Linked DNA regions of Homo sapiens: all the other regions are linked to region 2. The links come from fine-mapping of genetic effects on gene expression. A gene starts in region 2. Each other region holds a variant in brackets. All regions are shown on one strand. Distances are between the middles of the regions. Region 1 overlaps TNFRSF10A (TNF receptor superfamily member 10a). Region 2 holds the start of TNFRSF10A (TNF receptor superfamily member 10a). Region 3 overlaps CHMP7 (charged multivesicular body protein 7).

Region 1 (4,126 bases), 26 kb after region 2:
GAAAGGTCAAGGGACACGTCAGGGAAACACATTCCCAAAACCTTGTACTCTGTCATCAGATGAAGAAGAGAGAAGTCCCTGCACCACGACCAGGAACACAGCATGTCAGTGCAAACCAGGAACTTTCCGGAATGACAATTCTGCTGAGATGTGCCGGAAGTGCAGCAGAGGGTGAGACAACAGCCAAGGGGCTCCCAGCAGCCTCAAAGAACCCACAGAAGCAAGGAACCCTAAAAAGACCCGAGTCTCCTTGTACCCGTATCTATCAGCCCTGACCCCATGGTGCCTCCACCCCCATAGGTGTCCCTGAGCCTGTGGCGTCTCCTGAGCCTGCAACCTGCCCCTCCTGGTCCATCTGCCTGTCCCCACCCCTGTCCCCTGCAGTGGCCCCTTCTCACCCCTCCCCAGCACTAGTCCCCTTGGCCAGGCTGACTTGTTCACTAGGCACAGGAGGCCATGACTTAGGGCCCACAACAGAGGTACATGAAATATTTTATCTTGAAATCATAAGAAAATAATGGTATAGAATCCAGCTGGGGTTATATTTATATTTAAACAAATTGAGTCATAAAATGTAATTTTTAATATTTGCTTTTAATTCAAGAAGACAGAAATGCCCACAGCCCGCAAAAATCATAATAAGGCCATGGGTGGAGCTCCTTCAAGTTCCCATGAGGACCTGAGCCCACCCAGCCAGCCTCACCCCTGGCCCCTGATTTCTCAATAAGTCCTGTCTTTTTCCTATTTTGGTTTTGGAAGCAAAGAGTAATTGCTCTTCTCTGGTCCTCCAGTGTTTGCTGTGATTGAGAGGAACCAGCAGACAGGTGGGGGCGAGGGCTCACTTGTACTGTGGGTTAACTGGAGGAAGGGGCTCAGCTTGTGGCCACACGGGCTTGTGATCTTCCCCTGGAGTGTGATTCCTCCTAACGCAGGCCTCCCCTGCAGCCCAGGGAAGATTAGTGTGTGCCCAGCACAGAAGGCTCCTGGAACTGCAGCTCTGACCCCAGAGCAGGGAGGCCAAGGGGGTAAAGTGTGCATGCTCAGACCCTTCCCCAGCCTAAACAAGGGAGCATAGGGGGACCCCCTGCAGATACGAGGAGACTATCCTTCCCCTGACGCCTTCTCAGGGACATTGGGCAGGGAGAGTGGCTCCTCTTTCATCCCACCTGGCCAGCTTTCCATCAAGAGTCCCCCCCCTCCCTCCCTGTGTGTACCCAGGTGCCCCAGAGGGATGGTCAAGGTCAAGGATTGTACGCCCTGGAGTGACATCGAGTGTGTCCACAAAGAATCAGGTACAAAGCCCACTGGGGAAGCCCCAGCTGCAGAGGAGACAGGGACCAGCAGCCCGAGACTCCTGTCTTTTCCTGTCTTTTCTCAGGCAATGGACATAATATATGGGTGATTTTGGTTGTGACTTTGGTTGTTCCGTTGCTGTTGGTGGCTGTGCTGATTGTCTGTTGTTGCATCGGCTCAGGTAGGTGCTGGCTGAGGGCAAGGGCTCTGGGCACTCTCTGCCCTGCCTTCTTCTGTTCCCACAGACAGAAACGCTCACCCCTGCCCCAAGTCCTAGTGTCTCTGGCCGGGCTCTATCTTCCTCCTTGTGATCACCCCCCATCCTCCCATCCTGTGCAACCCTAGGGCCCTGGTGTCATCCGTCCCTCTCCCAAGGCTGGGGGTCCCCTCATCTCCCAGCCAAGTCTGGGAAGGCAGGGCCAGTTCCTCCACTG[G/T]TCAGGCCCATCCAGGCAGGGGGCAGTCAGCTCCTCAACTGGATGACAAGAGTCGAGACGAGAAGTGGTTGTGGGATTTATGTAGCTTTGTTCAGAGCAAAACACAGAGCAGAAAACAGTGATGTTCCACTTGTTTGTTTTTAGCCTACTTCCCTTTATGCTCCCCGCTCCTGAAGGATCTCCCGAGTTAGCAGGGCCTCATGTGGATCCCCAGGCCCGGGGATCTTTGTCCAGTGTCCCAGCCCCCAGCCCACCCCTGCCCAACACTGCCCTCTAAGAAGGAGTGCTGCATGGGCCCCTCCCTGGCCACTAAGGGAACCGTCTTCTCTTCTAGGTTGTGGAGGGGACCCCAAGTGCATGGACAGGGTGAGTTGATTTCTCCAGGAGCTGGGGGCATCAGGGGCTCAGGAACTGCTTCTTGCCCACAGTGTAGTCCAGGTGGGTGGGTCCCCGTGCTCTCATGGCTGCCCTGAGTCTCTGAAGTGGCCTGGATGCTGTGCATTGACTATGGGGGACACAGGCCCTTTTGAGCATCATACAGGCTGGTGGGCCATTCTGTAGCCCTGTGCTTCCTACAGCCCAGGTGAGACCCTTACCCCACAGCCTGTACCCTGGGGATGGGGTGAGCCCCCAAGCCCAGCACCAGGGCCTGGCCCCAGCAGCAGGTCCTGGATGTGCTGAGCATGGACTTCCTGGAGTGACCTCACTGGGAGGGGGTGGTGGCAGCAGGTCCAGCCGTGCCCTACGGACCCCGTGGGGAGCCCTGGGTGTGGGCTTCTGAGTTGGCTCTTTGCCTTCCTAAGGTGTGTTTCTGGCGCTTGGGTCTCCTACGAGGGCCTGGGGCTGAGGACAATGCTCACAACGAGATTCTGAGCAACGCAGACTCGCTGTCCACTTTCGTCTCTGAGCAGCAAATGGAAAGCCAGGAGCCGGCAGATTTGACAGGTGTCACTGTACAGTCCCCAGGGGAGGCACAGTGTCTGCTGGTGAGTTGGGGACAGGCCCCTCCAAGACCTTGTAGGCAGGGGGTGAAGGCCATGCCTCGGCTCTCCTGGTCAAAGGGGAAGTGGAGCCTGAGGGAGATGGGACTGCAGGGGACGGGGCTGCGTGGGAAAAAGCAGCCACCCTCACAAGGGGACAGGCACTCTTCCAAATGTCTGCTTCTTAGTCCCTGTCCTGTCCTTGCCATGTCCTCAGAAACTGGAGCTCCAGAGGAATAGAGTGGGGGTCACAGGGTTTGTTGATGACTGAATAAGGCTGCACGGTCTCCACTGTGTGCTCCTACAGAAGTTAGGGAGCCCTTGCTCATAACAGCAGGGATTTTAAATTTACTCTGAAATTATTATTGCATTAAACATATTTGGATCTAAATCTCTGCCCAAATTTCTGCATATGGTTGTATGGAGGATTCCAAGAAGAAGCACAATTTCCAAGTCAGCCTGTAACAGTGCTGCTTACTGTGTACACGCACATACACGCACATGCACACACATGCATGTACACACATGCACACACACATGCACGTACCCACACATACAGGTACACACATGCACACAGCCCCCTAGTGTTGGTTTGTACCAGTTCATGTATTTTGATTTGACATTGAAGGGCTTTTTCTTTTCTTTTTTTTTCTTTTTTTTGCTATTTAGGAAAACATTGTTTTAAACGAACATTTCTTTGTTTTCACTGTTTTTGCGTAAGATCAGTGTCTTGTCTCTCAGAGTCTTTATGAGAAGGCCTGCTCTCCTACTCATGCTTTTTCTCACATTCAGACAGTAGATTCCTAATTTCTTCTTGCCCCTTTTTGTTCTAATATTTTCAGGTGTAGAAGCTTTAATTTTTAACCAGTGAAATCTGTAGATACTTTTACCTTTTCATTGCTCACTACTGTAGAAAGACCTTTTGCCAACACAAGACGAACTCCTCTAACTTCTTATGGAGATATTTTTTTCAATGATGTGATTTTTGCATATAACTTTATAATCTAAATGGAACTTGTTTTGTGTTTCAGTGCAAAGCGAGGCACTCCCTGAATTGTTCTAGTCACTGTCTGGTTTTTCCAACCCCTTTGAGCTGCCGATTCTCCCATTTCCCTCTGCTTTGGGTCCCTCCTTAATCACAGGTTAAATGCTCATCTAGACAATGATCTCCTTCCACCTAGACTGTTCCATTCAGTTCCTTTCTTGCATTAGTACCCATTTATTCTAACCAAAAATGTAATTAAAAAAAAAAGAAGGCAAACATTAAAAAGGTCAATAATCTCCAGCTTGATAAGGTGCTTTGACATGAACAAATAGTTTATATATTTAAAATGAGAAAATTTAAACTATCAAAAGGTACTCAGTAAGTAAAGAGAGCATCCTCCACTCTGCAGTGCCCTGGGTCTTTTTCCTCAAGTA
Region 2 (4,126 bases):
CCAGGCACGGCAGCATGTGCCTGTAGTCCCAGCTACTGGGGAGGCTGGGGCAGAAGAATTGCTTGAACCCAGGAGGTGGAGGTTGCAATGAGCCGAGATCAGGCCACTGCACTCCAGCCTGGGCGAAAGAGTGAGACTCTGTCTCAAAAAAAAAAAAAAAAAAAAAAAAATTCAACATGAGTTTTGGAGAGGACATTCAAACTACAGCAGGCATCTATGAGGAAACTATAACTAACATCATATCTAATGGTGATTAATTAGATGTGTTCTAAGATATGGAATAAGATAAGCATGTCTGCTTTAACTATTTCTATTTAACATTGTACTGGAAATCCTATCCAGGGCAATTCAGCAACAAAGATGAATAGAAGGTATAAAGATTGGAAAGGAAGAACTGAGACAGTTTTTGGTTACTGACAATAGGATTGCTTACATAGAAAATCCTAAATAATCTATAAAATAACAACTAGAAATATATCAATTTAGCAGTACCATAGCATACAAGGCCGATGGACAAAAATCAACTGTATTTCTGTATAGTTGCAACAAACAATTTGAAAATAAGGGAAGCTAAATCAATTCCATTAGCAATAGTAACAAAAATAGTTAGAAATATGTTTACAAAAGATATGAAAGATTTGTACATGGAAAGTTTGCAAAATATTGTCAAGCTTAAGTAACAAATATCTAAATAAATAAATTTCATGGATTGAAAGACTCAAAATTGTTAAAATGTCAATTATTCTCATTCATCTCTACATTCAATGCAATCCCAATTAAAATTCCAGTAGGCTTTTTTAACTGAAAAAAATTATTCTATATTTAATATATACGGAAATGCAAACCATTTGGGAGGTGGGTAGTAGGGGGAGGACTTGAACTGCCTGATTTCAAGACTGACTATACAGCTCATAATTAGGACAATGTGGTAATTAGCATGAGAATAGCCAAATAAATAAACGGAACAGAATAGAGTCCGGAAATGGACACATACATATATATGGTCAATTTAATTTCAACAAAAGTGATAAGGCTATTGGATAAGGAAAAAAAGTCTTTTTTTTTTTTTTTTTTGAGACGGAGTTTCCCTCTTGTGGCCCAGGCTGGAGCGCAATGGCTCCATCTCGGCTCCCCGCAGCCTCTGCCTCCCGGGTTCAAGCGATTCTCCTGCCTCAGTCTCCCGAGTGGCTGGGATTACAGGCATCCGCCACCACGCCCCGCTAATTTTGTATTTTTAGTAGAGGCTGCGTTTCTCCATGTCGGTCAGGCTGGTCTCGAACTCCTGACCTCAGGTGATCCGCCCGCCTCGGCCTCCCAAAGTGCTGGGATTACAGGCGTGAGCCACCGCGCCCGGTCGAAAAGAGTCTTTTCAACAAATGGTACCGGAACACCATTAAAATATGGAGAAAAATGAACATCAATCAGCGCCCCCTTTCTCTTACCCACTCCTCAGCCCCAAGGTCGCCCTGGGAGTTCTTCGCAGGCAGGACCGTGACTCGCGTGGCTTTCGGGAGGCTGATTACCCACGCCCCATGCCCGTGCAGCGCTGGGTGCAGAGGAACCGCTGGAAGGACCTGTCCCCCGTGGGACCCCCACCAAGTCTCATCCCGTGTCATGTGCCAGATAGTCTCCCGTGGTTTAAGGACTTTCAAGACTCTTAACAGGTTAGGAAAATCCAGAAGAAAGGCAGAATTGGGTCCCTCGGGCTTGCCTGACACCAGGGACGGTGGAGTTGAGGTGACATTTCACTGGCATGGAGACCTGAAACCAAAAGCAGGATGAGCCGGGCACGGTGGCTCACGCTTGTAATCCCAGCACTTTGTAAGGCCGAAGCGGGCGGATCACGAGATCAGGAGCTCGAGACCAGCCTGGCCAAAACAGTGAAACCCCCGTCTCTACTAAAAATAGAAAAAAAATTAGCCGGACGTGGTGGCGGGCACCTGTAATCCCAGTTACTCAGGAGGCTGAGGCAGGAAAATCGCTTGAACCTGGGAGGCGGAGGTTGCAGTGAGCCGAGATCGTGCCACTGCACTCCAGCCTGGGCGACAGAGCTTGACTCCATCTCAAAAAAAAAAAAAAAAAAAAAAGGCAGGCTGAATCACTCGCCCGGTAGTGACGGAGGAGGCCGTAAAAGCCTCTTAGAGGCCAGACCCCGCAGTGGCCTCTGTGTCCTTCATTCCGCCACCCATCCGTCCACCGAGCGCCTGCTGGGTGCCAGGAACTGGGTCACAGAAAGGCTGAGGTCAACTCCCGACCGAGAAGCCTGGCGCTGGGACCAAGTGGCAAAACGACTCCGAATGCAGCGGCATCCACGCGGCGGCCGTGGTTGAGGAACAGAAGCTGAGAGCGGCAAGGGCGGTCACAGAGGAAGGAAGTTCAGGGTTAGCCAACAGGAGCCGCAGGTGCCCCGAAAAGGGGGCGGGGTCAGGGGTGCCCTGAACTCCGAATGCGAAGTTCTGTCTTGTCATAGCCAAGCACGCTGCTTCTTGGATTGACCTGGCAGGATGGCGCCACCACCAGCTAGAGTACATCTAGGTGCGTTCCTGGCAGTGACTCCGAATCCCGGGAGCGCAGCGAGTGGGACAGAGGCAGCCGCGGCCACACCCAGCAAAGTGTGGGGCTCTTCCGCGGGGAGGATTGAACCACGAGGCGGGGGCCGAGGAGCGCTCCCTACCTCCATGGGACAGCACGGACCCAGTGCCCGGGCCCGGGCAGGGCGCGCCCCAGGACCCAGGCCGGCGCGGGAAGCCAGCCCTCGGCTCCGGGTCCACAAGACCTTCAAGTTTGTCGTCGTCGGGGTCCTGCTGCAGGTGAGTCCCCACCGCGGTCCTGCCTGGGGAAAAGCGCGCCTGGCACCGGGAGGGGGCAGAGAGAGAGGGGGACGCGGCGGGGGTGCCTGGCCCGGGTCACTTGTGGCGGGGCATGTCCGGGCAGGAGGAGCCCGTCGTCGGAGTCGGAGGAAGAACGGGGTCCCCGGGGCCAGGCAGGAGCGACCCGGGCCTGGAGGCAGCAGAGCCCCCTCCCGCAGGAGGCTGGGCCCGGGGACTCCACCCCGTTGGCTGCTGCCTGGCGCGTCTCCCTCCTGCCCACACCTCACGATGTATCGGGAAGTTTCGGAATCGATAGAGCTCAAGTGTGTAAACTTCCAAGCCAACTCCCAGCCACACCAGCTGCGTGAAGGGGAGCGCCATTCTCCCCACTCCCTGATTCCCTCCCCACCCCCGTCCTTCTTTTCTTCTCTTCTTTTTTTTTTTTTTTTTTTTTTTGAAACGGAGTCTCTCTCTGTCGCCCAGGCTGGAGTGTAGTGGCGCGATCTCGGCTCACTGCAAGCTCCGCCTTCCTGGTTCAAGCGATTCTCCTGCCTCAGCCTCCCGAGTAGCTGGGAGTACAGGCTCCTGCCACCACGCCCGGCTAATTTTTTGTATTTTTAGTAGTCACGGGGTTTCACTGTGTTAGCCAAATCCGCCCGCCTCGGCCTCCCAAAGTGCTGGGATTACAGGCGTGAGCCACCGCGCCCGGCCCTCCATCCTTCTTTTCTTAGACAAATTGGTTAAACACGCAGCCCGGCAGGAAAAAGTAACTTTCTCTCCTCTGCTCGTTGTCTTCCGTTTCGAGTCCACTGAGCACACCGGCAGCAGTTTCCTTCCAGCCACTTTCTTGCGCATCAACAGGTACAGGGCAGCGAATTGACCACCACGAGGCAGGCAGCCAGGAGCGGGGCACGCCCTTCCTTCAGGAGGCAGCGTTTCCTGTGAAAGCAATCACTCAGTCTGGAAAAATGCCAATGCCTTCAGTTCTCTTTCAAGTTCATTAAGGCTCTACCAATTGTTCTCATCCAGATTCCTTCTATGTTAAGGAAAAACAAAACGAAAGCTAAGTACCTGAAGGATAAACCAGTCTTACAAGTGTCAGGAAATTTTACGTGTTTTTGTTTAACAAACTAAACAAAATCCAGGAATCCAATAGCATTTTGAAATCTCCAAATAATTACAGAATTTATGTTTTAAACGTCAGTTTATGTTAGGTGGAACCCACGTTTGACTCTTATTTTTAATACGCTTATTAAATGGCTTTCTTTTTGACAGGCTAGTGCGATTCCAGGTGGATGTAGGGCTCACCTGTATAG
Region 3 (4,126 bases), 30 kb before region 2:
TTAAGGTGGTTTTAAATCTGAAGACTAAACCCAATACCCAGTGGCAAGAAAACTGATGCTGACGGCAAAAACTCTTGTGGCAAGTCTGTTGACAGTCTGTTGTGGCAGGCTCAAGCAGGCTGACTAAGGATAAGCTTTTTCAACCCACAGGGACAGAACATGCAAACAGGGCACATTATACACATCTTCCTGTTTTGGGGAGACAGGGAAGGAACTGTTAACACCAACAATGACCTCGGACATATCCTCTGCCTCCCAACAAGGCTAGACTTTCCCACCTGGAAGACAGACTTCAATGTCTGTGTTCTCCTGCCAGAGGGTGTGTCTTTATTAGGGATTCCTTGTACAGTCATTCAGGGGGAAGGGCAGGGGAAGAGCCCCTCAGAAAGACCTCTGCAAAGGCAGGGACCTGTCTTGTCCACGGCTGTATCCCCAGTCCCTAAGACAATGCCTGGCTCAATAAATATTAGTTGAATGGACACTGGCAAGGAAGAGCATAAACATAACATTCACAGTCATGGTCTGTGGGGGAAGCATTAAGACTCACGTTTTCAGCTGGGCACAGTGGCTCACCCCAGTAATCCCAGCACTTTGGGAGGCTGAGGTGGGGGTCTTGTTTGCGCCGAGGAGTGTGAGACCAGCCTGGGCAACATGGTGAGACCCCATCTCAACAAAAAATTAAAAATTAGCCAGGCATGGTGGTGCACACTTGTGGTCCCAGCTACTCAGGAGGCTAAGGCGGGAAGATTGCTTGAGCTCAGGAGTTAGACTGCAGTGAGCTAAGATCATGTCACTGCTCTCCAGCCTAGGGGACAGTGCAAGACCCTGTCTCAATTGAGGAAAAAAAAAAAAAAAAAGGCCGGGCACGGTGGCTCACGCCTGTAATCCCAGCACTTTGGGAGGCAGAGGCGGGCGGATCACGAGGTCAGGAGATTCAGACCATCCTGGCTAACACAGTGAAACCCCATCTCTACTAGAAATATAAAAAATTCGCCAGGCGTGGTGGCGGGTGGCTGTAGTACCAGCTACTCGGGAGGCTGGCGCAGGAAAATGGCGTGAACCCAGGAGGCGGAGCTTGCAGTGAGCCGAGATCGCACCACTGCACTCCAGCCCGGGTGACAGAGCGAGACTCCGTCTCAAAAAAAAAAAAAAAAAAAAAGAGGCCTCATTTTTTTTTCTCTTTTGTGATATTCTGTGCTTTCCATGATTTCTGCATTGAGCAGTGAGTACTTTTGTAATTAGCTAAAAAAAAAAAAAACCCACCTATTTTTTAAAAGCCCACATATACTAACATTTTGCTGGCTCTGGGGGCCAGCAACAGTGGGGAGGAGGCTCAGTTCAGGGTTAAAAGTTACCTCTCTGCTTCCTGGGATAAGGACTCCACTTTGCGTGAGAGAAGCTGTTCACTCTGCATCAGCTGGTACACCCCAACATCTACGTCATTGACTGGAGAGACCTTGGCACGTGGCCCTCGGGCAAACTTCACAATCTGAGGGACAGGGAGAAATTACTACTGCTGCTACCACAAAGGCTGAGAAATTCCCAACCAGGAGCGCTGGTGGTGGGCATGTGAGAACAGCAGGCCCCCCTTATCCATGGGGGATATGTTCCAGTGAATGGAATCCCCTGTGGAGGTCTGAACCCTCAGAGAATACTGAACCCTATACATATAGCTATGTAAACATTTTTCCTTCTTCACAATTTTTCCTATAGAAGATTCATTCTTACTGTAGATCCTAGCAAACTCAGCAAATGATATTTGGTCTTCCTTATTTGGTCCAGAACTTTTACCTTTTCACTTAAAGGAAGCACTTGACCGCTTCTCTTTGGTAAATCTGGACTGCCAGCACCACTGCTCTTGTGCTTTGGGGCCATTATTAAGTATAATAGGCCAGGCACGGTGGTTTACACCTGTAATCCTAGCACTTTGGGAGGCCGAGGCAGGCAGATCACTTGAGGTCAGGAGTTCAAGACAGCCTGGCTAACTGGTGAAACCCCTTCTCTACTAAAAATACAAAAATTAGCCAGGGGCCGTGGC[G/A]CATGCCTGTAATTCCAGCTACTTGGGAGGCTGAGGCAGAAGAATCGCTTGAACCCGGGAGGCGGAGGCTGCAGTGAGCTCAGATTGCGCCATTGCTGGGCGACAGAGCAAGACTCCATCTCAAAAAAAAAAAAAAAAAGTACAATAAGGGTGGCTTGAACACAACCACTGCAATGCTGTGACAGTCAATCTGATCACTGAGACGACTCCTAAGTGACTCAGGCGGGGAGATGCTGGACAAAGCAGGGATGCGCATACAGGCGGGATACTACGAGGTCCCATCACACTACTCAGAACAGTGCACAACTGAAATCTATGGAACTGTTAATGTTTGGAATTTTCCACTTATTATTTTTGGACCGTGGTTGACGGCAGGTTACTGAAACTCTGGAAACCAAAATCTGAGATAAGGGCTCACTACTCTATGTACTTAATCAATCACTGCTGAGTCAGTGAATGAACAGATGAGCCTCCATACCTTCTCCCCGTTCTGCTCGAGGACTGTGACCCTCTTCTCCTTCTGCAGCTGCAGCAACACCAAGTAGAAGGTCCTCTCATCTGGGCAGGAGTTAGCACAGAGGGTGCTGAGCTCTGACAGGGCCACCACGGGGTGGGAGGAGAGGGGCGAGTTCTGATACAGACGATACACCTCCTCAGCCTTTTCCTGTGGGAAAGGCAACATTGGCTGACAGGCCCTGGCCACTGCCATGGGATGCAGGGACCCTGACCCTGAGTTTCAAAACCATGATCACACAAGGCAAGCACCCGGGAATCCCAACCCCATCCTCCCCAAAGTAGCGGCTTTTCAAAAAGGAGGAAGGATCTGTGTTTTTAAGCCTTGGAGGAAAGTTTGGTGACTCCACATGAAATGAGGCACATGAGATGCTGGGAGCCAGCTCTGCGCTGCACGCCCATCGGGGATTTTACACTCCTGCCTCTCACTGGCCTGTGGTTTCCCAAGGGAAGACTGAGGAGGTGAGGTGAGGTAGAACAGCTGTGAACGAGAGCTGAGGCCTGATTTCCAGCCTAGCCTGGGTGACCTTGGGCCAGTCACAGCCTCACTAGTCCTCAGTATCACTCTCTGAAGAGGGTGGATGAAATGACATCTAATTCCCTTCCAATTGTAGTCTCTCCATTTTCCTGCCAATTGGCTATACTGCAAACACAAACATTATTGACTCTGTAAAAAGCCTTAAGGGAAAAGGGCCAGGCGTGGCAGCTCATGCCTGTAATCCCAGCACTCTGGGAGGCTGATCACCTGAGGTCAGGATCACCTGAGGTCAGGAGTTCGAGACCAGCCTGGCCAACATGGCAAAACCCTGTCTTTACTAAAAATACAAAAAAAAAAAATAGCTGGATGTGATGGCGGGCACCTGTAATCCCAGCTACTTGGGAGGTTGAGGCAGGAGAATCACTTGAACCTGGGAGGCGGAGGTTGCAGTGAGCCGAGATCGCGCCACTGCACTCCAGCCTGGGCGACAAGAGCAAAACTCTGTCTCAAACAGAACAAAACAAAACAAAAAACAAAGAAAAGTACATAATAAACAGATGGGATAAGATTAGTGACAAGAGTAAGAAATATAAGTTCCAAGAAATAATGTCACCATTTCGCTCATACATGGAAATTACTACCAGAAACAAGAAAGACTGAGGTGTCCATGGGATGCTATGAAAATATAGGGAAGGACTGCCTGGGGATTCAGGATTTCTTGAAAAAAAAAAAAAGTTGAGCAGAATTCTGAAGAGTGAGCAAGTTCCTAGGTGAAGAGGTGAAACGGGTATCTCGGGAAGAGAGAGGAACATGAGCATAGAAGGGTGGGTCAATGCGGCACGTGTACAAATGTAGAGGGGAAAGGAGAGAGAGGAGAAGCACTCCTATATTATAGAAAGTGTAATATCCTATATTATAGAAAGTGTAATATCTTATGATGATCCTTTATTCTGTAGATGGTGGGTGGTCACTGAAGGAAACTGACATGGCTAGATTAACAGAAAGCTAACTGCCAATTGGGAGACGATGGATTGTAGAGTTAAGATTAGAGGCAAGGAGACCATTTACACAAGAGATTATGTGGGTCTGAACAACAG

What was found. PIP is the estimated chance that this variant, and not a neighbour inherited with it, causes the effect.
Region 1: its variant is the best candidate, but not a certain one, in a credible set for the expression of TNFRSF10A in whole blood (TOPMed, PIP 0.69).
Region 3: its variant is the best candidate, but not a certain one, in a credible set for the expression of TNFRSF10A in esophagus muscle (GTEx, PIP 0.75).

What each region holds. Positions count from the first base shown.
Region 1 is chr8:23,197,853-23,201,978 of GRCh38, reverse strand. It overlaps TNFRSF10A (TNF receptor superfamily member 10a), which reads left to right. Exons shown (of 10, transcript NM_003844.4): 4 at 60-171; 5 at 1,219-1,292; 6 at 1,379-1,474; 7 at 2,062-2,093; 8 at 2,531-2,713. Among named protein-coding and RNA genes, the nearest start is that of TNFRSF10A, 25 kb to the left of the region's middle. The variant G/T (reference allele first, on the strand shown) is at 1,728.
Region 2 is chr8:23,223,440-23,227,565 of GRCh38, reverse strand. TNFRSF10A (TNF receptor superfamily member 10a) reads left to right here and starts at 2,464. Exons shown (of 10, transcript NM_003844.4): 1 at 2,464-2,810. The coding sequence starts at 2,505. It overlaps TNFRSF10A-DT (TNFRSF10A divergent transcript), which reads right to left and starts at 2,345. Exons shown (of 3, transcript NR_033928.1): 1 at 1,443-2,345. RefSeq lists an enhancer at 2,072-2,211, silencers at 2,263-2,454, 2,622-2,871, promoters at 1,854-2,507, 702-2,507, 1,936-2,972 and a cis regulatory region at 2,893-2,972.
Region 3 is chr8:23,253,823-23,257,948 of GRCh38, reverse strand. CHMP7 (charged multivesicular body protein 7) reads right to left here. Exons shown (of 11, transcript NM_152272.5): 4 at 2,517-2,702; 5 at 1,356-1,489. Among named protein-coding and RNA genes, the nearest start is that of CHMP7, 12 kb to the right of the region's middle. The variant G/A (reference allele first, on the strand shown) is at 2,039.